Linked DNA regions of Homo sapiens. The protein of the gene in region 2 purifies or fractionates together with the protein of the main gene of each other region. This does not show direct contact. Each region holds a gene or a part of one and is shown on either strand. Other genes may lie near its edges.

Region 1 (3,947 bases), on a different chromosome or scaffold from region 2:
CATTATCATTAACCTCTTGGGGACTTACCCCTGGGATGGCCAGGCTATAGACTTCATGAGAGTTGAAACTGCTGCCATCGTATTCAACACTGTATTCCTAGGGCCTTAGCCCTCTGCCTGAAATGGAGCAAGCTTTCCATAAATATTTGCTGATTAGCCACCAGTTGAGTTTCCTGTCCTTGCAATGAGGAGTTACCACATGATCATGGTAAGCCTTTTTTCTCATCAGCTACAAAATGCTACCTACCCATAGCATGGGGTGGGGAAGGTATTAACTTTTTTTGTTTTAATTAAAAATGAGACCAACTTTAAAGAGATGAAACTGGCTTTCTTGTGTCTCATACACTAGGTGTGAAAGGCACTTACAAAACAAGAATTCAAAAAATGTTCTAAGTAATAACAGTTCTAAGTAACATCACCACAAAAACATGTGTGCCCTCTCAGAGTGGCTACTTTGTAAAAGTTAACCTCAATAGATATATTCTTGAACATTTATATTAAAAAAGGAAACAGTGGCCAGGCACGGTGGCTCACACCTATAATCCCAGCACTTTGGGAGGCAGAGGCAGGTGAATCATGAGGTCAGGAGTTCAAGATCAGCCTGTTCAACATGGTGAAACCCTGTCTCTACTAAAAATACAAAAATTAACTGGGCATGGTGGCAGGCACCTGTAATCCCAGCTACTCAGGAGTCTGAGGCAGGGAATTGCTTGAACCCAGGAGGCGGAGGTTGCAGTGAGCCAAGATCGCACCACTGCACTCCAGCCTGGGCGACAGAGCAGGACTCCATCTCAAAAAAAAAAAAAAAAAAAAAAGGAAAGAGTCCCATAACTTTGTAGGCTCATAGAGACAAAGAATGTTCACCAGGACCCCAGCCTGTACCAAGCACTGCTGAGCCCATCACAATGGAAAGAAGCTTCCCTGTCAAGAGGACTCAGCTACAGAAGGTACCAAATGTGGTAGGAGGGGCCTGTTAATTAGACCAAGGCAGTCACACATCAGCAGGTAAAACAGAGACAAGAGGAGGTGTGGCTGGGCTGGGCTGGATCTTGGATGAATCAAGCCTTCCCATAGGGCAGGATATCCTGTCTAAAACAAGAGCCTTGGTTAAAACCCCTATAAAAGGTTCTCATCACACTGACCTGGTACTCCTCACACCACTTAACAGCCACTTGTTTCATCCCACCTGGGCATTAGGTAAGTCCCCTCATAAGAAACCTCTTTCTCATTCTCAGTGTCTTGGTGATCTGAGCTCATAAAACTGGGGCAGTCAGGTATGGACTATGCATCCTTCAGAGCTAGCTGTGAGCACTGGGCAAACCAACGCTACCGTTGGGAAACATGCTCTCCTGAAGCAATCAGGCTTTCTCCTCCTCCCTGAGGCTGGCCTGGGAGCAGCTCCTCTCACTGGGAAACTGTGTGGGCAGCGGCTATGGGGCCACCCATGTGCCTTCCTGGATCAGCAAAGGTTTCTTTTTTCTAAGGCTCTGGAAGCTTCTTTGCAGTGCTGAGAGTCTATGGGATCAGAATCAGTTTACTTATGCCAACCTAGACAATAAGATCAAACTGTGTCATGGATGAAGGGGTTTACATGATTCCCCTCTCCTACACCAGGGTGATATTTAGGCAAAATATGTGTAGATTTTTCTAAGGAATCTAAAATGTAACTAAAAGGTCATCTTATTATTTTATTATCTAAAGGTCAGTGGTTAAAGTCTGCTACATGGTTTTAAAAAAAAAGAAAGATATTTTTCATCTATGTTGAGGAAAACATCCCCAGTTTTTTACCTTGATGAAAAGTTTGCCTGAAATTGTTGGTTACCAGGTCCTAGAAAGGGTTTCTCCTGAACAGCCCACCTTTTGCTATGACTTACTGAGTCCTCATGGCCACACTAATCTGCTTTTTCTAGAACTCAAGTCTCCTTCCTTCCTTTTTTCTCTTTCTTCTCCTACCTATATCTGCCTCGTCCCATCCTCTCTCTGGCTTTCCAGCTGCTACAGGCTCCATCTCCCCTTGCATTTGAGACTTGTCATCTTTGATACCATCTCCTCCTTTGGGTCTCTCCAAGGCTTCTGCTTAATGAATCTTCAAGTCTCTTTTCCTTTTGCTCATGCAACCAAACCCAGGCCTCACCTCAACCTACCTCTAGATTTCTGGCTAATGAAAAAGAAAAGCTTTCCCTTTGATTAGGAACCAACTCATAGGTCACCAGAAATCTGGGCCTGATGGAGCCACGTGCCTGTTGGGCAAGCTGACTTCTCTGATAAGTCTCAGGGCTGTGGACAGAGGCGACATGCAGAGAAACTTGGACCCTCAGAACTGGAAGGCCTCCCACCCAAAGAAGGTTCCCCCCTCCTGAGCATTCCCAGCAGGTGGTAGCCCAGTTTCTTCCCACTTTCCCAAAAAAAACAAGAAGGGAGGGCTGTGTCCCTGGAATTTCTGCTTGGCTCCCATCCAAGACAGGGGTTGACTCACAGATGTATTTACTTCCTTTTGGTGTTCCCGATGGGACCCTAACACCCTTGTGATAAATAAATAAATCCTGTCCACAGGGTACATTCTAGAAAGCCCATTGCATTTGGGTTAAGGAAAAATGGATCCTAGGATTTCTTGGCTCCTTAAAAATTGTGTGGCCTAACTTCTCTGAGCCTGTTTCCTCACCTATAAAAAAAAGTGGAAATAATAAGGATTAGAAGAGATGATGTACAGGAAAGTGATTATATAGGTGTACAAAAATTATATGTGTGTATATGTATATAATAGCATAATAATTATATTTAATAAGGAGCACTTAATATAAGCCAGGCATCTGCCAAGTGCTTTTTATGAATTATGTCTTTAAATCTTCACAATAATCCCACAGAGTACTAATATCACCTTCAATTACAATGAGTAGTAAACTGAGGCATGGAGAGGCAAAGCAACTTGTCCCAGCTCACACCATACTTAAGTGGTGGGGCCAGCATTTAATCCTGACTCAGGAACCTGCCTCCATCCTGTGTGCTCCTCCTTCCCATACATAAGATGCATTATGTAGGAAAGGACAAAGGAAAACTAAAAACAGAGCTGAACGTGCAAGGAAAGACCTAGCAGCAGACGTGCTATAAAGGAAATAGCTGAGGTTGATTATGGAGCCTCCAAGGGAACTTTTCATCTTTTCCAGGTTGACTTCAAAGATGCCTCAGTTACTGCAAAACATTAATGGGATCATCGAGGCCTTCAGGCGCTATGCAAGGACGGAGGGCAACTGCACAGCGCTCACCCGAGGGGAGCTGAAAAGACTCTTGGAGCAAGAGTTTGCCGATGTGATTGTGGTACGGTGTGCTGAGCCGGGTGGAGAGGGGACATAGCAGGAGAGTGAAACCTGGTTTGCCTGCAGAGGCCTTGCCTGGGGAATTTGAGGAGGCAGCAGCTAAACCCAGGCCTGCCGGGACAGATGGCAGCTGTGCAGGCAGAAAAAAAGGTGAAAGAACCAGAGATGGTCATGGGAGTTGGCAAGTCCTGGCTCTTTAGATTAAAACCTTGGTTTTAATTAATTCTAACTTAAAGACAAGGTAAAAGGGCTCTAAAAGGACAACTCAGACAGGAGCAGAGCCTTGGAATATTTCAAAATGAAAATAATTGCTGCTTTCTGCCGCCTCTTAAATTTGATACAGTAAATATTTCCCACGTCTATCTGAAATGTAATCATCCATTCATAGACATTCATTAGAAGCATAGCTCTGGGCTTGCACGAAGCAGTTACTCAAAAATATTAGCAGACTGATCACATCAGAAATGAAATTTTGAAGAGCAGGTTGTTAATAGCTAGGGGGAGACTTTGGAGCCTCACCCCACCCCACCTGGCAAACCAGAACCAAGGCCTTGATGCACTTTCCTGTCTTTGGTTTGCATCTAAAGCAACCAGGATGATGATGGCCTTAGGGACAAGGACATATGGGCACAG
Region 2 (3,500 bases):
TTCCCCCACTTCCTGTAGAGCTACTGAGCCTTAGGATCCCCCAGAGGAGCTAGAGGAGAAGCGAGCCAGTGGTTCCTGGATGCCCAGGTGGGGAACAGGTGGGCTCAGGGTTCCCAGCCAGGCTCCGAGTTGCCCTCCCCACCCCCCAACCCCCGCCCCCGGCTCCACCACAGGAGGGTGAGGCCCCCTCTGGTCAGCCCTGTTCAGAATCCCCCTGGAAAGACACAGAAAATCGGTTGTGGCTGATTAGTTATCGTGATGCTGGATGGAGAGAGAAGAGGGCTGGGCACGGGAGGCTGGATGGAGAGAGAAGAGGGCTGGGCACGGGAGGCAGATGGAGAGAGAGAACAGGGCTGGGCACGAGAGGCTGCATGGAGAGAGAGAACAGGGCTGGGCACGAGAGGCTGCATGGAGAGAGAGAACAGGGCTGGGCACGGGAGGCTGGATGGAGAGAGAACAGGGCTGGGCACGGGAGGCGGATGGAGAGAGAGAACAGGGCTGGGCACGGGAGGCTGGATGGAGAGAGAACAGGGCTGGGCACCGGAGGCTGGATGGAGAGAGAACAGGGCTGGGCACGGGAGGAGGGAGGGGAGGCTGCAAGTCCTGGCAGGCGCGGGCCCATCCCAGTGGGGGCAATCCCAAACCCAGGTCAGCCCACTCAGTGGAGGAGACGGCTGCCCGAAGCCGCCTGAGCTCTGGGCCAGGGACTGTCACTCTTGAAAGACGTATTGATTAAAAACAAGGAAACACGCGTAGAAGGGCAAGTCAGACCCTGGCGCTGGGCAATCTTCGGCGTGGCCTGCCCCTGCCCCTGCCACCTGCCACCAGGGGCCTCATCTGCCTCCTGGGAGCACAGTGGTCCAAGGCAGATCTGAGGGGCCACGGCAGCCGAGAAGCTCGGGCTGGAGGCTTCACTTAAGGGCGATGACGCTGCCCGCTGGCCGCCCACCTGGACGGGACCTTGGACAGTCACCTCTGAACCCAGACAGTTTCCTCCCGTATAAAATAGGAGGCCGTTCTTGACCACTGAGGTGCTTCCAGAGCTAGTGTTCAAGGCCCACACTCAGACCTGATCCTAAATTACACCAAACGCTAAGAGTCCAGGTCCACTGAGTTAAAAGGCAGAAAGCAGCCCCAGGAAAGAAGCTGGGCAAGGTGGGGGCCTCCTGAAATGCATCAAAGGAAGATGCCAAGCCTCTCTCGCAGAGGTGTGTGCTGGGGGACCCGTCCAGGGGCAGGCCGGCCATGCACTGCGGCGCAGGGTGGGCATTGGCAGGGAGTGTGGCTCTGTGGCCACAAGCAGTGTGGCTGCCGTGTGCGGTGGTGGGAGTGAGAGGGGGCAGCAGGCCTCATCCCATGGCCTCTCCCCGCAGATCCAGGAAATGACAGCCGGGGTCAGTGAGGAGCAGCACAGCCATGGCCTGGACGACATGCAGCTGCACCAGCTGGCCCTGCACCCAGCGCCCACCTCACTCAGCCATACCTTCCACCGCGCCCTGGACTGCAGGCTGGCAGGCCCCTGCGAGACCAGGGCCACTCTCCCCAGCAAGAGGTCCAGCAACTGTCTCGCCCTGGACCTGTTCGGAGAGGCTCCACCACAGGAGTTTGTGGTGTAGGCACCACCCACCCAGCAGTACCGTCCGCACCGCCAGGCTCAGCCCCTGCCCACCCCACTTCCACATGGCCCTCGTCCCTTCCTGCCCGCCAGATGCTGCCTGCACTTCCGCAGCCAGCACGCTCCACAGGTTCACCTGTAAGAGGTGTGGAGCTGGCTCTGACATCAACCTGGGAGGTAACAAACAGGTCCCGCACCTCATGCCTGTCTGCCATACACCCGGGAGCTCTTTCCCTCAGGGTCTCAGGGAGCCAGTTCAAGGTCTGGCTGTCAAGTGTCCAGAGAGCCATGGTGTTGGCCCCTGAGGCAGCCTGTCACCCATCCTAATCTGGGAGAGAAGGTGACACAGCTGGGCCCAGACCCTGGAGAGACAGCTCTGCAGTTTCCCACACTGTCAGCTCCCCAAGAGACAGTCCTGATGGGCACAGGCTGCCAGAGCTCCCAAGCCGGAGTTCACAGTCATCACTGTGCAGGACCCAGGTTCCTCCCAGACCTGAACCCCTCTCTGCAACTCCTGTTTGCAAGCGCTGGGCCTGCCAGACAGAGGCCCCTCTTGTGGTGCAAGCCCAGCTCTGTCACCTGAGATCCAGCCAGAGACCCTCCTCCACCATCCACAGTCAATGGCTGTGCTTTCCCTTCCAAGCCAGGGCTTCCAAAGACCCCACTGCCCCGGAGCTGAAGCCGACTCTGCTCCCATCTCAGCCATGAGGCCTCAGGACCCACTCTGCTCACAGGTGGCTTCCTTAAGCCATTGCCCTGGCTGGGGTTGGGCTGGTGCAGCCCAGCTGGCGGAGGGGCGAAGCTTTGGTGACAGACGGAGAGTGGGGGACTAGCTGTGCATGGCACCTGCTCTGATCCGGTGGGCTCCACGGGTAGTGCGACCTCGGTTCTGTGGGCTCTGGAAGGCCACCAGGGTAGGGTCTCCCCAGGGCTCCTCCCCCTGCACAACACTCCTGCACACGTGCAAACCTGCTGTCCTCTGCATTTAGAGGAATGGCCCGTGCATCCCTGCTAGTCTCAGGCCCATCCCAGAGCACTGAGAGGCCACAATCGTTCAGCCCTGTGCCCTGAACACCACTGCCCCCTTCACTGTCTGTGTGTGGTGAAGACCACGCCACACCACCCTCCAGCTCACTGGAGACAAGCATGAGCTTGAGCCCCATGGCCTGGTGCAGGGCTGCGTGCATTGAGGCCGCCTCTTTGACGGGTCCATCCAGGGGGACCCTCTCCTTTCTGTGAAAGGGAATCGTGTGTGTGCCCCAGGCACGTGTAATAAAGAACCCGAGCAGATGCCTCCTGCTTGAACCAGGACCAGCCTGCCTGGGGGGCTGGTGAGATGCCGGCTGTAACTCACTCAGGGGCATCGGCCACAGAAGGCTGCGTTCTGTAGATGGCCACAAGCCCCAGTGCTGCCGAGGGCAAGACTGCCCACAATTCCTGTGCGGCAGGGGAGGTGCGCCTAGTGCTGGCTCAGATGTGAGCATGTGGGCACTTCCCAAAGCCATTCCCATTAGTACAAGATGATTGATTTGCCCCGCTCCGGGGCAATGACTATCTTCTTCCTTTGAAGAAACTTGGAAGCAAGAGCCCAGTCCCATGGACCATGAGGGAAGGTACACACCAGTGTTGGGGAGACACAGCAGGTGGTGTCCACCATGAAGCAGGGTCTGAGCCAAGACCTACATGCACACATGCACACATCCACATGCATGCACACACATACATGCACACACGCACACATCTGCACACAGATGCACACGCATGCACACACACACATGCACACATCCATACATGCACACTCCCCATGTCCAGGCTTCCCCTGCCAGTCACCTTCGCCACACGCCATAGACCCCAGGGGCAGCAAAGGCCGGGCCAGCCCACCCCT
Region 3 (3,500 bases), on a different chromosome or scaffold from region 2:
GAGTGAGTGAATGATTTAGTCTTTTTTTGAGAATTTACAAGAACCAACCATGCTTAACCATTTATCATTTTAATACTTTTTTCCCAATAGTTTCCTAGTTAGGTGTCTTACGAAATATATCCTGGGAGTACCATAAAATATTCTGTGAAAAATGATTCCGCGGACAAATAATTTTTGGAAATGCTGCATACTAAATTTTTCTTATAGAAGTTTAATTACTATGTAAATGTACTAAGGGCTCCAAGAAGGCCTGAACTAACAAAACTGCTTAACTCTTGTTTAATTCGGCAAAACGTTTCCCAAATTGATTTGATCACAGAAACCTATTAATATCTTTGGGAAATGCTTCTCTAATCTTTAAAGTACTGTATCGTTTTTGTGAAAAACATAGAGTTTATTGTAGAATTTTTTCATGAAATAAACTTTGATTGTTTCTTTAGACATTCAGAGAGATGTAAATTATGACTAAATGTGATTAGAGTTTCCCAGGAACTGAGATTTTTTTTCTCATTTGATATTTTGAACAAGATATAATCTCTATGACCTAACATATGTTAGTTACTTTAGGCATTTAACTTGTGTATTTAAGAAAAGGAGATGTATCTTTTATTGGTACACTGAACTGAGAAAGCACACCCCACAACACGAAAGCATTTCTGTATTTGCCCCGAGCTCAGTAAAAGAGTTTGTCCCTACTCATGGTTTTAATATTGTTTGTTAATCTAGGAAATAAACCTATAGCTGTATAGTTTTTCTATCAAAATGGTGTAACTGGGTGAAGTAGGAAGGTTGACTAATTTTATTTTCAGTTTCAGAATATTAAGTCCTTTGTTATATTCGCACTTTACTTGTCTTTAAAATAATATCTGACCAAAGCTGTAATCATCTTTTGCCTCTTTATCATGTGAGATTCAAATGTGCTTTACTAGTTTAACTGTTCACTGACTGGATAAGAAACTTTCCCTCTATTTTTGGTAACTAATGCTTCTGTACTTGCTTTACCACTCTTCTTTATCCACATAGTTTTTTTTTCCTTCACATCTTTTTCGTCATGAGTAGTTTAGTTTAGTTTTGGTTTGCTTTGTAAGGTTAGAGATAAATTTGTACCAAGTTAGGAGACCTTTTTTAAAGAAAACTTTTGTTTTAGAAGCTTCTTTTTGGTGGTGGTGCTGGGGAGGGATAGGTGAAAGGAGATAACAGTAGATAAAGCCCGACAAGTTTTCAGCTGGACAGATCTTCCCACTGGCCTACTAAATCTGAAAGAGCCAAAGGTTTGTGGTGGGTTTGTCTAGCAAGTTCTATGTTCTAGTTCCTGAATTTTCCCTACCCTAGAGTGTCATGTTTCCATACTTCCTTCCAAATAAGACCATGATCTGCAGACCTCCTTGTAAGTCCAATCATCCCTAATACTTCCATGTTTCAGAATTAAAAATGATTTCTAAAAACATTACCTAAGCATTATATTACTAAAGCAATATGACCAAAAAATGTTATTTCCAAGAATTGATGAAGAAATTTTACATAAAAGATAATTGAGCATTAATACTTAGTAAATGAAATTCTAACTGGTTTTATCTTCAACAGACAAACAACAGAAAGGTGAATTTGCAATAGATGGCTACAGTGTCAGAATGAATAACACTCTAAGAAAGGATGGAAAGAAAGATTGCTGTTTTGAAATCTCTGCTCCTGATAAACGTATATATCAGGTTGTAGTTTTTATGTTGCCTTGAAATTAAGTTGATAAAATGTTTTGATTTCATTTATAGAGACATTAACATTTGATTAATACTTTCCTTGACATGTTAACAATAATAAAAATACTGATGTTTAAATATATTATGCATTGAACATTCATATAAGAGGAAATTTTTAAAAATTTCAGATTAATTCACACACTATCTTCTTGAAAAAGATAAAGAGAATATATAATTTATCAATTACTTCACATGTTGCACACATGTTGCATAGAACATAGGTGATCACATGTTGCATAGCACTAGGTGATCTTCCAAAAGAATTACATAGCAGAAAGAGTAAAATTATTAAAACAAAAATATCAGAGTGATAATACATATTGTATTGCTTAGGAGTGTGGGAGAAAATGAAGGTAAAAGTACACATCAGCTCTGCAATTCAATAGCTATCAGCTAGGCATCAATATGGAATGTATGTTTAATAAGTTTTAAATATCTGAGATTGCAGTTGAAAGCCAGTTAATTAAGTTGTCAGGTAGTGTGTTGGAATCTGACAAGAACATTTTTAAGAAAACTGTGTGCAGCAGTCTAAAGAAATTCATGGGTGTCTTCTAATTGTCAAGGGCAAATTTTGTTCATCAGTTCTGTCTTTGACATTGATGAAAGAGAAGCAGCTTTTTTTCCTGCACAGCTGCCAGCTGCTGATCAGCGTTTGAAATTCATCATCCTCTGCTTCAATTGCATAAATTTGTCAAAATTAACTGTACATTATAAGAAGCATCCTTGCAAGAAAAGTTCCACTAGACATGAAAAGAATTACTAATAGTCTTAAAGAAATGGTAAGAATACAACATACCTTTCATTCCTACTATGGTGATTTTCGTTCTTACTGTTTGTTTTATATTAGTTTACAGCAGCTTCTCCCAAAGATGCTGAAGAATGGGTACAGCAGCTGAAATTTGTATTGCAAGGTAAGATAAATCAATCGAACAAGTTATCACAGTCTTTAAATACTAAATAACAGAGTAGTTTGGGTTTTCATATACAAAAGCTTATTGACTTCTGTGAGAATGACCAACTTGAATGTGACTGTTATTAATACAGACCACTCACTTCAGATTTTAAACAGCATCTTTTCTATAAGTACCAATTGGCTTACTTTAAAATTCACATATTTACAAAACAATTTTTAAACATGTTTTTAGTTAAGGACATAACATATAACAATATTGTTGTTGCTTTGTAGGGCTGCATTTATTTATAAAGTATAGTTTTAAAAATATCTTCTGCATTCTTTTAAAATTTACTTCATGAAATGTGTTTTATAGATATGGAATCTGATATTATTCCTGAGGATTATGATGAGAGAGGAGAATTATATGATGATGTTGATCATCCTCTACCAATAAGCAATCCACTAACAAGCAGTCAACCAATAGATGATGAAATTTATGAAGAACTTCCAGGTATTTACTTTCTGGTGATTCATTTAAAGATTTTAGGGCTGTGTGTGTGTGTGTGAGTGTGTGTGTGTGTTTGTGTGTGTGATTTGTCCTCGACAGCTTGAGTAGAAAATGGTGACCTATTGAGAACAAGGACAAAGAATATCTTCAAAACTCTATTTTACAAAAAGGGTTCTGCTTGAGATATTTCAAGTGAGTAGATGTAACTTACGAAAAGTGAATGAAACATTAAAATGAAGCAGATACAATACTAATCTCTTGGGACTTGTGGCTCATTAGCATTGTTTATGCTACATAATTTTTTAATTAAAAAATTGACTTGCCTTACAGTTTTTTCCAC
Region 4 (3,937 bases), on a different chromosome or scaffold from region 2:
CTAGATTCTTTGCTGCCTCAGCTCACCTGGCCCTGGCAGCCACTGATGCCACTTAATGTCCTTAGGCTAGAGACCCAAGTTCGCCGGGCTCCCTGCCACATCCCACACACAGTAGCAGACAAGGCTGGTACAGGCCTCCTCACTTTGTCCTCAGCCTGACCTCCGGTTTGGGCCCAGACAAGATTTTCCTCTCAATATTTAGACTTTTCAAGGAAAAAGGCCTGCCGAAAGCCAGGCTCACAAAGGATGGGGGAAGGGGGACTCTGGAGACCTTGGGGATTCCCTCCACATTCCATAGAAGGTGCGAAATTTGGGTGAGGGTCAAACTATGGAAACAGGTATCATCTCAGAGAAGAAAAGTGAAAGCAATCCTGGAAAGGGAGCCCGGGGCTCTGGATTCCAAATTGGCCCTTGTCGCCGGCAGGCTGGGTAACTGTGGGGAGGGACTTTCCCCACTCTGGGCAGCAGAGGGCCCGTCGGTAACGGGTGGAAGTTGGCCTCTATGGTCTCTAAGGGCACTGGTGTGCCAGAGAGGCGGACGAAGTTAGGGCGCAGGCGCTGCAGCTAGCTTTCCTGGCAGGTGAGTCCCTCCTCTGGGTGGCCTGGCGGCGCGATCCGCAGGGCCTTGTCTCTACGACTAAGGATAGGCCGGCCCTTAGGTTTCTGCAGTCTTCCCAGATTCCTCAACCTCTCTGCCTCGTTACTCCCCGCCGGCCTCTAGCTCAGGAATAAACGTCCTGGTGGCGGCCAGGGCACAGTACCGCGAATGCACAGCGGCCACAGAAATGGGAGTGCGTGAAAACCGAAACCGATCCGGCGAGCCCCATCCGGGCAGGACTGGCTCCTTGAGGCCACGGTGTAGCCACGCCACTACCAGCCCGGCGTGGGGGCGGGAGTGGGGAGCCCCAGCCAGTGGTTCCGCACCCTCTCCGCCCCCTGCCAACACCACGCCTGCACTTATTTGCATTTAAAGAGAAACGCACCAAGGAAAACAGTGGGCGGGCCGGGGCACGCCTTCCCACCATAGCGATTGGGCCATATGCCTGCCAATCAGGACGCAGATGCCCCACCCGGTGGCCTTGGAGTACTGGGGGAGGGGGTATGGGGGAGCTACCCAAAGCCTGGGGAAGGGGAGTCAGTGCTGGAGGTGACTGGAGCCGCGGCGACGGCGGCAGCAGCTGCGGTGGCGGCGCTCTCAGCCGTGGCAGCCGAGGCTGCAGCCCGGCCCAGGGCGGCTCAGCGGACAATAACCGGGCTAGGAACCTGACCGGGCTGGGTAAGCGTTGCGTACAGCCAGGAGCCTCCGCCTGCCCGCGGTCGGGTGCATTCCCGCGTGCTCTGCTCCTACGGACTGGAGGAGGGCACTAAGGACTAGGCGGGTCGGAGTCCCGGTCGCTCGCCCCTCTCCTTTGGAACCCGCTTTGCGGACTGTCGGGTGGAGAGGCAGAGCGGCCTTGAGTCCCCTGGGCACAAGCGACCACGGCTGGGGGGAGGGGGGTTGGGGAGGGCGGGTAGGAAGGCAGGCTAGCCTGGGCCAAGCCTCCCGGCTTTCGGGGGGGCGGGGATGGGCCCGCACGTGCTGCCGCACAGTCCCGGGAAGGGCGCCGCCAGCCAGCACCCCAAGCCATGCATTTGTAGGCCAGGAGCTCTGCAGCTTTGTTGTAGCACATTTGCTGGAACAGCTGTGTAACGCGGGTACCGCTCACCCCTCTCTCCGGCTGCCTGGCTGCCGCCCCTCCCCTCCCCTGTGCATCTCCAGCCTCTCCCTCCTTTCTGCGGACTCAAGCTGGCGTGCTGGCTTGGGCCCGACGGAGACCGGCTTTGGCGTGGATTGGGACATCCACAGACTGCCCCCTCCCCAGAGGAGCTCAGTTGGGCCTGTGGGCTGAGCTCAGTCGCACACTTCCCTTCAGAACCTTGGCCTTGTGGCCCCAACTAGCCGCGCCCCTCCTCCTGGGCCTCCGGGCGCATCTGGCGCCCGCCCCCGCGGTCGGGCAGGCTGGCTGGCAGCCGGGCTCTTGCTGGTCCTTGGGTTAGAGCAGCGGCGCAAGCTAGTCCTTGAGTTAGAGCTGCAAGGCCGCTTTGTCTCCCGCCTCGCCTCGCCTCACCTCCTTTTCCCTTGGAGGATACTGGCCGCGTTTTCCTCTCCAGCCTCCCGTTTAAAAATAGCAATAGGCACGGTGTTTGGGGGGCATTTCCTTGCCAGAGGCCGAAGGAGCCCTCATTGTAGTACGGAACGTATCATACCATCTCTGTGTACAGGAGAGCTAGCGAGGTGGCCAAACCCTCCAACTTCGCAGTTACTTAACATACCCAGCCCGCCAGGCCCCTGTCATTGTCTGCTGGAGACACTTCTGACACTGGTGACCGCCCGAACGCTGGACTTTGCTTGGCTCCCCCGGTGGTGAGGGGCTGTGCCCGCTACATGCGTCACAGCCCAAGCGCCTAGGCGGCAGCTGGACTGGCCCCGCAGAGCTGGTCTCCGTTTGGCCAGGCTGCTTTCGGCAAGGGCCGCGGGGTCAAGGCGAGCCTTGTTCCACACACAAACATCTTCCTCTGCGGCTCTGCCTGCCTGCTGCAGCGGCGTGGGCATGGGCAAGGCAGAGGGCACTGCACTGTTGGACTGCCTGCCCCACCGGGATTCCAGCAGAGCCCCCTCCCCCAGTGTGGCTCCCCTCATTCGGCACCACCCACTGCACAGTCACTGCACCATGGTGCACCTCTGGCAGTGGGCTCTCTAGGCCTTTTTGAGGAATAGGACAGAGGAAGCCACTGGGGGCTTGGTAAGCTCTTGGACCTTTGATTAACCTCTGGTGTGGAGAGCCCTGTGGGCTGCAGGGCCCAGGCAAAGCTTGGGCACTTTGAGGAGGGGCAACGAGACCCAGTAAATTCCTCACTTGGGGGAAGGCTAGCTCTGGACCTTTATGACAGGAGCCAGGACCACAGATATCACACTACAGTCACCTCCTCCCACCTTGATTAGGCCCCAACACAAACCTCTACTTGCAGCTGGGCATCTCTAGCCCAGGGCTGGACCTGCCCTCTGCCTTGTCTCAGGCCAGCAGGCACCTAATGTATCTGCTCTATGTAACTCCCTTCCCCACACCCAAACCCACTCAGCCTACACCTGTCCAAATCTTCTTCCTTCTCAAACCTCAGTTCTGGGCCTTCCTTTTCCTTGGTGCCTTTCTGCCTGGCTCTTGCCCACCCATGGTGACTTCTTTCTTCTCAGAACTCCTCCAGGGCTGCCTACTTCTCCTGGGCATATTCAGGCTTAAATTATAATAGGATGCAGACTATAATTAAGTTGGCCTGCCTCTGTTTTGTCTGATATCATGGATGTCTGGGTTCTCTCAGAACCCTTTGGAGGAGTAAATAAAACCTGGACCTCAGCCACAACCCTCTCAAAGCCAAGCAGTGCAGAGCAGTTAATGATTGTTCCGGAAGGACTTGCTTTCTTTGTAGAGTTTTCCAGAAGACCTTTACCTTTCCAACTTGCGCTTGTCCTGATTCATATGAAAGTGGCTAGAGAAATGATACTCAAGGCTCAGATATGTATTGAGTGTGCCTAATGAGGATGGATTAGAAGGGGGATGATTGCAACTACAAGAAAAAAATCATGATATATCTTCCCCCAACAACAGGCCCAGGATTTGGAATGCTCAGATCCCAGACCATGCATATCTTTGGTTGCTGATTCATGAGCCAAGAGACAAACTACTTGGAGAGAGATGAAAGATCTGTATAAGCAGGGGGATCATCCATGGAAGCTGCCAGAAAGTAGAGGGGTTTAGTAGGCAAAGCATAAGCAGACCCAGGAATGGGAGGGGAGAAAGTGATTGACAGGCAGGGTGAAGGGAGTGAATGAGTCTATTCTGGTTGAGATGGTGTGGCTCAGAGGTAGAGAAGAGATTGAGGCTCAGTGATGGGGTTTCCC
Region 5 (2,937 bases), on a different chromosome or scaffold from region 2:
TAAGTCAGAAATAGATAGCAGGTGTTTTCCACTAACACCTACATGTATTTTAGAGAGGTGTGGTTGGAATGCATCTCTAGGTGAGTTCATGGTTAGAGAGTCGGATGATCACAGCACTGCTTGGACCCTCCTGGCCCTCTGCTGCAGTGCTCTGCTGCACCGCCCATATCTGCTCCATGTGGTTCTCTAGGAGGGAAGCTGATGCTGCCCCCACAGGAGAGGCACACGGGGTCCCTCACAGACCTGCTGCACCTGACCTGGTGGCCTGAGGCCAGGGCATTTGCTCGCAGTCACGCACGAGCTCCATGCCGTGCCTTGGGCTCTCGGGAGGGCCTCAGCATTGGGGAGAGGAGTGGCTGGGCTCTGGATCCTGGTGTCTGCTTAGGCCATATTTCATTAGGAGGTGCAGGTTCCAGGCTGCACACCCTGAGTCCTCAGAGCCCAGCAGCCTCAGCCTGCGCCAACCTCTCCATGCCAGGCAGCGTTGAGCTCTTCTGGGCCTGGATGCCCTGTGTGCAGAGTATGGAGGAAGTGAAAATGGGCTCTTCCCCGCTAGAACCTCCATGCATCTTCAGAGCCACCAAACAGCGTGAAATATCGAAGGGGGTTGGTCTAAGAAGGGCCGTGGAGTTTCCCTTCAGATCTAGTTTGGTTGCCCTAGAGCCTGGTGGGCGCTGGTGGGCTCTGCCTGCCCTGCAGTGGTTGTCGTGCCCTCCGTGCTGGAGGGAACTGCCTGTCCCCTGTCCACTGACCCATGATGCCTGCTGCATGGCTTGTCACCCCTTCCTGTACCCAGGCCGTGAAGCTTGGGGAGGGTGCAGGGGGGATCCAACCTGGGCGAGAGCTCAGTGCTGCTTGGCCACCTTGGCCCTGCCTCCCAGAGCTGTGGCTCCCACCCTCTCCCTGAGCGCCTGCCCTGCCAGGGCTCTGCCCTGCCTCCTGGCCTCTCCTTTCTGGCTGTGAGCGGTGTACTGCTCCTGGGCCTGCGGGGCTGCAGGCCTCCTCTCAGGAGCTCCTTCCTCCCTCCTGCGTCCTCTCCCCATCTCCCTGGATGAAAGGGTTTCTGAGTTCTTATTCTCAATCCCATCCTCAGGGCCCTGGCTTCTGTCTTGTCATCTTCATCTCCGTCTACTCCAGGGTCGGCAGACTGTGGCCTTAGGTCCCTCTTCCCCTTCCTCAGGCCCTGGCAGCTGCCATTCTGCTATTTTCTCTATGAATCTGACTACTCTAGGGACCTCCTATACGTGGAATCGTACAGCATTTGCCTTTTGGTGACTGGCTTATTTCACTTTGCATAAAGTCCTCAAGGTCCATCCATGTTGTGGCCTGTGCCAGCATCTTCCTTTTCAAGGCTGAATTTGATTGCGTTTTCTGGATATGCTGTACTTATTCATCTGTCAGTGGACATTTGTGTTGCTTCTACCTTTTGCTTCCATCTTTATGTTGTTCGTGATGCTGCTACAAACGTGTGTGCAAACATCCCCTGCCTCTTGTTTCTATAAATAAAGTTTTATTGGAATGGAGCTGTGCTCATTTGCTTATGTGTCGTCTGTAGCTGCCTTTGTCCTACATGACAGAGTTGAGTTGCAGTGGGGACCATGTGGCCCAAAACCTGAAATATTTACTATTTGACCCTTCACAGGAAAAGTTTGCCAACCTCTGTTCTGTTCTATTGGATATTTCTCTTCAGCTTCTAAACATCTTGAAATCTCTCTAAAAAACAGAAACAACACAAAAACAAAAACTGCTGAAACTGATTTTCTTGCTCTAGCCCCTACAGCTCTCATCCGTCCGCTCAGCTTCCCTGCGGTCTGTGCTAGCCACCCCACCACCCTGCTGACTCAGCCTGGGGGCCCGACTTTCACCCACGCTGCTGCTCTGGCCTCTGTGATCTGCCCTCTTGAGCCCTCCCCTCCCCTCCCCTCCCCTCCCTCCCAGCCCCTCTTCTCCGAGTCCAGCCCGGGGCTCTGTCCGTGCCACTCTTCTCACTGCTGTGGTTTCTCTTGGCTCCCTTGTCTAATTCTGGTTCTGAGAACAGGCTGCTGCTTCCCAGACCTCTTCTGGGGACAGACCCCCAGCTGCGGACCTGGAGACGCATGGCCTTGGCCAGTGCAGGGGCAGGGCTGTGGGTGCTGGTGACCTGGCTCTGGTGCGTGCTTGGCAGCAACTTCACCTCACCAAGCCTTGCTCTTCTGTGCAAAATGAAAGTCATATTTATCTTGCTAGGTTGTTGTGAGGATTTGGGTTAAGCCATGTAAAATGCTGGTACAGCATTGGCATCTCTAGGTACCCAATAGATGGTAGCATGGATGAGGATGTTTACGGTGACAGGAAATAAATGGTAGCATGGATGAGGATGTTTACGGTGACAGGAAATAAATGGTAGCGTGGATGAGGATGTTTACGGCGACAGGAAATAAATGGTAGCGTGGATGAGGATGTTTACGGTGACAGGAAATAAATGGTAGCGTGGATGAGGATGTTTACGGTGACAGGAAATAAATGGTAGCGTGGATGAGGATGTTTACGGCGACAGGAAGTAACAATAGTCCTTTGGGTGTCTTCTCCCTGAAGCTTGCTCCTCCATTTGGCCCACTGTGTGAACACCCACCTTCACCACGTCCTTCTTGTTTGCTTTCATCCTTCGGTGTTTTTCCCTGTTCAGTCTCGTCCTGCAGCACCCTTCACATCGTCGCCACAGCCATCTTCCTAAAGGGCATGTGTGTCCATGGTCACACCAAGCCCGTTCACACCAAGATCGTGAACATGCCTGATCACGTCTGAAGGGCACGTGACCCTGTTCTGAAGTGGCCTGCAGCTCCCGTGGCCCTCAGCAAAGCCAATGGACGTGTACTCTGCTTCCTCCAGGAAGCCCTCCCCCCGCTCCCCCCTCTGGTAGACACGTCTTGTGGTTGGTGTCCACAAGGAAGTTCCTGA
Region 6 (3,354 bases), on a different chromosome or scaffold from region 2:
TTTATATTATATAATAATATTTGGTCATTAAATAAAAATTAGAAAATACAAATAAGAAAAATAACACCCATAATCTTACTACCCAGAGGTTTATAACCATGGGTAAATTCTGGTATATATTCTTCCAGAATGTATATCAATCATGTGTATGAATGTTAAATTATATCATACACATATAAACCCACATACAAACATGTAAATACTGTGTGCTTTTGCAAAAATTAAATTGTATTATACACACGGCTTTACAATTTGCTTCTTATCACACAAAATTATTTGCATGTCAGCAAATACAAATCGGTTTTTAATGATCTTTTGCTCCATTTTCCAGATGAGAAAAAAATACAAATCTGTATCATCATTTTAAAAGAATGACTAGAATTTTAATATATGAATATTCTATAATTTACTGATCCAATTGTTACTATTGAGCACTTAGGTTGTTTCCATTTTTCCCTCATAAATTGCTATGAATAGCTTTTTGTATACATCTTTGGGTGCATTTCTTATTTCTTTTGGATAAATTTTCAATAATAGAACTGCTGAGTAAAATATCACTAGGTGTTTTTTTACAGTGTCTAGTGCAAAGAAGACCTTTAATCATTTTGTTAATACTTCCAGAGCTTCCAATGACTTTGGTAAATGAAGAAAAAAATGCTTCATTTCATGCTGAATGGGAGAGAATGAAGAGAGTTTTCCCCAACAATTACACATATATGGACTCATAGAAAATAATATCTTACCATTCTTTCCACAGCCTAACAGAAAAAAGCTGGCTAAACCTAAATTTAAAATAAAATATCTATTAAAGTTTTTATTCCTTACCACCTGTCTTTCAGCTTTGCTGCAAGATAACATCGCTGATGCTGTAGCTTGTGCAAAGAGGGTTGTCCGTGATCCACAAGGCATTAGAGCATGGTATGTTTTAAGTGTTAAAAGGGAAAACTATCTTACTCTACTGTTGATATATACAATGAGAGCAGACTTTTAAAGACCAAAGTATGCTAATGACACCTCAAAATTGCAGCTTTTGGCTTATGCTAAATGATGTATTACCTACATCCTTGAAGAAACAATCTACTTTAACTGATCCAGAATCTTACTCTTTTACTCCTCAATTTATTTTAGGGGATTTCTAGAGTTTTAAGATGCTTCACACTCTATCAGTTCCTTGTCATATCTTGAAATTCTTTTTAGAATAAGTAAGTGTGGGCCGGGCACAGTGGCTCACGCCTGTAATCCCAGCACTTTGGGAGACCGAGGCAGATGGATCACCTGAGGTCAGGAGTTCGAGACCAGCCTGCCTAACATGGCAAAACCCCATCTCCACTAAAAATACAAAAAATTAGCTGGGTGTGGTGGCAGGTGCCTGTAATCCCAGCCACTCGGGAGGCTGAGGCAGGAGACTTGCTTGAACCCGGGAGGTGGAGGTTGCAGAGGATTGCGCCATTGTACTTCAGCCTGGGCGACAGAGTGAGACTCTGTCTCAAATAAATACATAAAAAATAAATGTGGAATTCACTTTGCAGTTGCTGCTGTACAACGCACATTACTCAATCTTTATGTTCGGCATTCTATGCTCTACTGAGAAATTTGGGTAGGAGTGAAGTATTTTGTATACATATCTTCATTTAATAAATAGCAATAGCTGGGTCTATCTTACTATTTTATCTATTGATAAAATATTTTGTTTCCCCAAGGAGTGCGAAGTATGTATATTACAATGAAGATATGTTTTAACCTTTCACCATTTGCTTCATCTTTTTCTACAGGGTGGCATGGAGAAATCGTTGTCAAAACAGAGATGTCCGTCAGTATGTTCAAGGTTGTGGAGTGTAACTCCAGAATTTTCCTTCTTCAGCTCATTTTGTCTCTCTCACATTAAGGGAGTAGGAATTAAGTGAAAGGTCACACTACCATTATTTCCCCTTCAAACAAATAATATTTTTACAGAAGCAGGAGCAAAATATGGCCTTTCTTCTAAGAGATATAATGTTCACTAATGTGGTTATTTTACATTAAGCCTACAACATTTTTCAGTTTGCAAATAGAACTAATACTGGTGAAAATTTACCTAAAACCTTGGTTATCAAATACATCTCCAGTACATTCCGTTCTTTTTTTTTTTGAGACAGTCTCGCTCTGTCGCCCAGGCTGGAGTGCAGTGGCGCAATCTCGGCTCACTGCAACCTCCACCTCCCGGGTTCACGCCATTCTCCTGCCTCAGCCTCCCGAGTAGCTGGGATTACGGGCGCCCGCCACCACGCCCGGCTAATTTTTTGTATTTTTAGTAGAGACAGGGTTTCACCGTGTTAGCCAGGATGGTCTCGATCTCCTGACCTTGTGATCCACCCACCTCGGCCTCCCAAAGTGCTGGGATTACAGGCGTGAGCCACTGCGCCCGGCCACATTCAGTTCTTATCAAAGAAATAACCCAGACTTAATCTTGAATGATACGATTATGCCCAATATTAAGTAAAAAATATAAGAAAAGGTTATCTTAAATAGATCTTAGGCAAAATACCAGCTGATGAAGGCATCTGATGCCTTCATCTGTTCAGTCATCTCCAAAAACAGTAAAAATAACCACTTTTTGTTGGGCAATATGAAATTTTTAAAGGAGTAGAATACCAAATGATAGAAACAGACTGCCTGAATTGAGAATTTTGATTTCTTAAAGTGTGTTTCTTTCTAAATTGCTGTTCCTTAATTTGATTAATTTAATTCATGTATTATGATTAAATCTGAGGCAGATGAGCTTACAAGTATTGAAATAATTACTAATTAATCACAAATGTGAAGTTATGCATGATGTAAAAAATACAAACATTCTAATTAAAGGCTTTGCAACACATGCCTTGTCTGTTTTTATTTAGACTCCTATAGTGTCTCTGAAGAAAAGAATACAGATATTTGAAAAAATATGATTTGGTGCTCTTAATATCTCTTATATCGTCACTTACCTCACTTAAATAGTCAGATATTGCTGGAGAAAAATTCACAAGCATGCTGACAGGTCTCACTTTAAATTCATAACCATAAATCTCAAATGAGCCCTCAAGTCTGCCTGACCATTTTAGTTACTTCTCTACAATCCTTCCATTTTTATGTCCCTAGTCTCCAAAATGACTGTTACTATTTTACTTTTCCTCTTCTCTCTTCAAAGCCTCAAGACACACATTCAGCCTCCTCCTCTGCCCCCTTATCCTCCACCCTCCTCTGCTCTCAGCAGATAACCTGGCCTCATATTACACTTCTAAAACAAAAGCAACTTCATACCAAGCTTTCCCTTCTACATCCCAAAGCAGCAGTCATACCTTCCCACAGGCCCATCCTTCCTTCCTTCCCTCCTAT
Region 7 (2,881 bases), on a different chromosome or scaffold from region 2:
ACTCCATGGCAAAACAACATATGAAAAATATTTGGGACCACAGTATGTCGCAGGCATTACTAATCTGAAAAAGTGCTCAACCTCCCGTAAGTAGACCCTAGCTAGCATCCCCGAGAAACCACCATGGGTGAAGGTCAAGGTTTGAGGGCCAAACAGCATTCTAGGAACGAACACAGGTGTAAAAATGTTAAGGAAAGATAATATCTCTTTACAGTTCAGGAAATTATAATCTCATTGATAAAATAATTAGAGAATAAAATAGAGCAGTATGTAATAAATTTTTATAAATTTTATAGTACGGATAGTGATGGCACTGTCATGAAATCTTTGGAAACTGATAATCCATTTTATTCAGTAAAATGAAAGGTGCATATATACATATGCATTGAGAAATGACAAAACCAGCCACGTGTGATGGCTCACACCTGTCATCCCACCACCTTGGGAAGCAGAGGTGGGAGGATGGCTTGAGCCCGGGAGTTTGAGACCAATGTGGCCAACACAGAGAGACCTTGTTCTACAAAAATAATTTTAAAAATTAGCCTGGTGTGGTGTCAAGCACCTCTAGTCCCAGCTACTTGAGAGGCTGAAATAGGAGGATTGCTTGATCCCAGAAGGTTGAAGCTGCAGTGAGCTATGATTGTACCACTGCACTACAGCCTAGGTGACACCGAAAGACCCTTCCTCAAAAAAAAAAAAAAAAAATCTGATTCTAGACAGTTACCATAGATGCCAACTATAGAGAAAACAAAATCTCAAAAAAATTCAAGTGTAGGAAAACACATCTTAACCAGGGAAATATGTTGATATTAATTTAATCCCTTAAAAATATTTAGAAGACATCACAGAGTATTGTAAGGCTCCCGGTGATAACTGTGGGATTTCAGTGTGCACAGCTCCCTGTGCACTGCAATCATTCAGATTCCTATTCCTGGTCCCTCACCCAGAGTTGGGGGCATTAGGGATGCTGTTGGTCCAAGGATGGGGGCAGGGCCAGAAATGTCTTTATCGGTAGTTTTCAATGAGAGACAATTTTTCCCCTGAGGGGATATTTGACAATGTGAGAAGCATTTTTTTGATTCTTACAACATAGAGGGTGCTGCTGGTAACAAATAGGTAGAGGCCAGGGATGCTACTAAACAAAGCACAGCCAGCCCCCTGCAATAAAGGGTTATTATCAGGCCCCAAATGTCAATAGTGCCAAGGTTGAGAAACCCTTTTCTGTATTGACAAACAACTCAGGTCACTGTGATGCAGGTCAGGACCACCCTCTGAGAAATATGGCTACAGGGCTCTTCTTGTGAGCAGCCAGCTCAGGACTGCATAGACCACATGCTTCTTGAGGGCAGGCCAGTCTATCCATGCTGTGTCCCCAGCACTTAGCACAGCAACTCACACAAAGCAGGTGCTCAGTAAGGATCTGTGAATGAATGAGTGAATCTGCAGGTGAACATGATTGCAAACAGGTTCACATTCCGGGAGAAGCTAGAGGACCACCAATGTCTTGTGAACTTGAGAATGTGACAGTCGATTCAATCAGAGACAAGTGCAGGGTGGTTGTGTCTCTCAGGCCAGAGCAGGGAAACACCCTGGCTGGTGAGGGCTAGACTCTGGCTCCCTTGAACACCGTAGTCGCTAGGAGTAGGGGAGTGGGAATATGAGTGTGGCAAGCACTGACTCAGTGATGGGAGAAGGGCAGAGAAAACTCTTAGTATTCTCTTTGATTTATTGGATTAAATAACTGGTTTAATGGAAGAAATCAGTTTCTGAATCTCTTGCTCTGTTGTGTCCCACAGCCCTCCTGGAAGCCTGTGAATTCCTCAGGAAGTAAAACCGAAGAAGATGGCCCAGCTCCCCAAGAAAGCCTCAGCCATTCACTGCCCCCAGCTCTTCTCCCCAGGTGTGTTGGGGCCTTGGCCTCCCCTGCTGAAGGTGGGGATTGCCCATCCATCTGCTTACAATTCCCTGCTGTCGTCTTAGCAAGAAGTAAAATGAGAAATTTTGTTGATATTCTCTCCTTATAAAGTGTCACTCATCTTTTCTAGAATTTTATACTGAAATCACATGCCTGACAAAATACCTGTACAGTTGGACCTTCCCTTCCAAGTTTTTCAGGTCCAGCCCCTCCTCTTTCTTGCAGTCTTGGGTATGATGCCCAAGGGTCTGGAATTTAAGGCCAGGCCAAGCACCGGTTTTCCTAAGGGGATCTTGTTGGTTATTCACATAGCTGTCTCAGTGCACGTGCATGTATGTGCCTGGGAGTGTGTGCGTGTCCCCAAGGCAGGGCAGGAAGAGCAAGCATAGGAATTATAACTGAAATGTAGGTTCAGTTGCTCATCACTTGCAGAGTCTAATTAACAAGAGCTAGGTTTGGTATAAAGTGACTTTTATTCCAAAGCTACCTTAGGGGAAGAAGTACAGGCTTCTTTCCTTAAGGGTAACTGCTTCACCTTTGGAGCAGAAAGCAGAGGCTTTTAAATGGGGGGCGTGGCATGCAAGGCAGGAAGTGAGCAGGTAGAGGGTCTGGGTACTGGCTTTGGTGCCTTGTCTACCAGGCAGTTGAGTTGGTTACTGCTGGTGCCTTTGTGGGCAAAACTAGGTTGTAAAAGCAGCCAAAAAATTTCCAGATGGGAGAGTTTCATAGCGGGCATATTTTGGCTTGTGAATTGACTGTTATGTCTCAAGGTAGTCTCTTGGTGGGAGAGAGTTCTGCTCTGTAGCGTCTAACTAAGAGCACATAGTTAGATGAACTTGCCCTGTTGGGAGTGTCTGGTGAAGGGGAGATAAAAGATTATAATTGCATTTCTAAAGAGCTAAGTAGGAAGCAGAGAAAAGGAGAGAGAAGTGAAGACAGAATAATTTTAAATAATGAAGAGAGAAA

Evidence for each region.
Region 1: the proteins of FRMD1 (region 2) and CRNN purify together in Homo sapiens (affinity purification with mass spectrometry; 2 studies listed by BioGRID and IntAct, with this or other methods). This does not show direct contact.
Region 3: the proteins of FRMD1 (region 2) and SKAP2 purify together in Homo sapiens (affinity purification with mass spectrometry; 2 studies listed by BioGRID and IntAct, with this or other methods). This does not show direct contact.
Region 4: the proteins of FRMD1 (region 2) and AMER1 purify together in Homo sapiens (affinity purification with mass spectrometry; 2 studies listed by BioGRID and IntAct, with this or other methods). This does not show direct contact.
Region 5: the proteins of FRMD1 (region 2) and PASK purify together in Homo sapiens (co-immunoprecipitation; 3 studies listed by BioGRID and IntAct, with this or other methods). This does not show direct contact.
Region 6: the proteins of FRMD1 (region 2) and LYZ purify together in Homo sapiens (affinity purification with mass spectrometry; 2 studies listed by BioGRID and IntAct, with this or other methods). This does not show direct contact.
Region 7: the proteins of FRMD1 (region 2) and LTF purify together in Homo sapiens (affinity purification with mass spectrometry; 2 studies listed by BioGRID and IntAct, with this or other methods). This does not show direct contact.

What each region holds. Positions count from the first base shown.
Region 1 is NC_000001.11:152,411,464-152,415,410, reverse strand, and holds the start of CRNN (cornulin), read left to right. Parts: upstream 1-1,147; 5' UTR 1,148-1,197; intron 1,198-3,164; 5' UTR 3,165-3,177; coding exon 3,178-3,315; intron 3,316-3,947. UniProt on the Homo sapiens protein: Promotes cell proliferation, G1/S cell cycle progression and induces expression of the cell cycle regulator CCND1. Regulates proliferation induced by pro-inflammatory cytokine response via activation of NFKB1 and PI3K/AKT signaling pathways.
Region 2 is NC_000006.12:168,055,213-168,058,712, reverse strand, and holds part of FRMD1 (FERM domain-containing protein 1), read left to right. Parts: intron 1-989; exon of another isoform or gene 990-1,208; intron 1,209-1,373; coding exon 1,374-1,616; 3' UTR 1,617-3,500.
Region 3 is NC_000007.14:26,725,091-26,728,590, reverse strand, and holds part of SKAP2 (src kinase-associated phosphoprotein 2), read left to right. Parts: intron 1-1,584; coding exon 1,585-1,709; intron 1,710-2,604; coding exon 2,605-2,668; intron 2,669-3,025; coding exon 3,026-3,163; intron 3,164-3,500. UniProt on the Homo sapiens protein: May be involved in B-cell and macrophage adhesion processes. In B-cells, may act by coupling the B-cell receptor (BCR) to integrin activation. May play a role in src signaling pathway.
Region 4 is NC_000023.11:64,202,909-64,206,845, reverse strand, and holds the start of AMER1 (APC membrane recruitment protein 1), read left to right. Parts: upstream 1-1,137; 5' UTR 1,138-1,276; intron 1,277-3,937. Other genes in the region: uncharacterized protein LOC112268307, read right to left, coding at 762-827. UniProt on the Homo sapiens protein: Regulator of the canonical Wnt signaling pathway.
Region 5 is NC_000002.12:241,108,536-241,111,472, reverse strand, and holds part of PASK (PAS domain-containing serine/threonine-protein kinase), read left to right. Parts: intron 1-2,574; coding exon of another isoform or gene 2,575-2,774; exon of another isoform or gene 2,775-2,937. UniProt on the Homo sapiens protein: Serine/threonine-protein kinase involved in energy homeostasis and protein translation. Phosphorylates EEF1A1, GYS1, PDX1 and RPS6.
Region 6 is NC_000012.12:69,351,381-69,354,734, forward strand, and holds the end of LYZ (lysozyme C precursor), read left to right. Parts: intron 1-839; coding exon 840-918; intron 919-1,772; coding exon 1,773-1,839; 3' UTR 1,840-2,854; downstream 2,855-3,354. UniProt on the Homo sapiens protein: Lysozymes have primarily a bacteriolytic function; those in tissues and body fluids are associated with the monocyte-macrophage system and enhance the activity of immunoagents.
Region 7 is NC_000003.12:46,435,145-46,438,025, reverse strand, and holds the end of LTF (lactotransferrin isoform 1 preproprotein), read left to right. Parts: coding exon 1-86; intron 87-1,796; coding exon 1,797-1,831; 3' UTR 1,832-2,381; downstream 2,382-2,881. UniProt on the Homo sapiens protein: Transferrins are iron binding transport proteins which can bind two Fe(3+) ions in association with the binding of an anion, usually bicarbonate. Lactoferricin binds to the bacterial surface and is crucial for the bactericidal functions.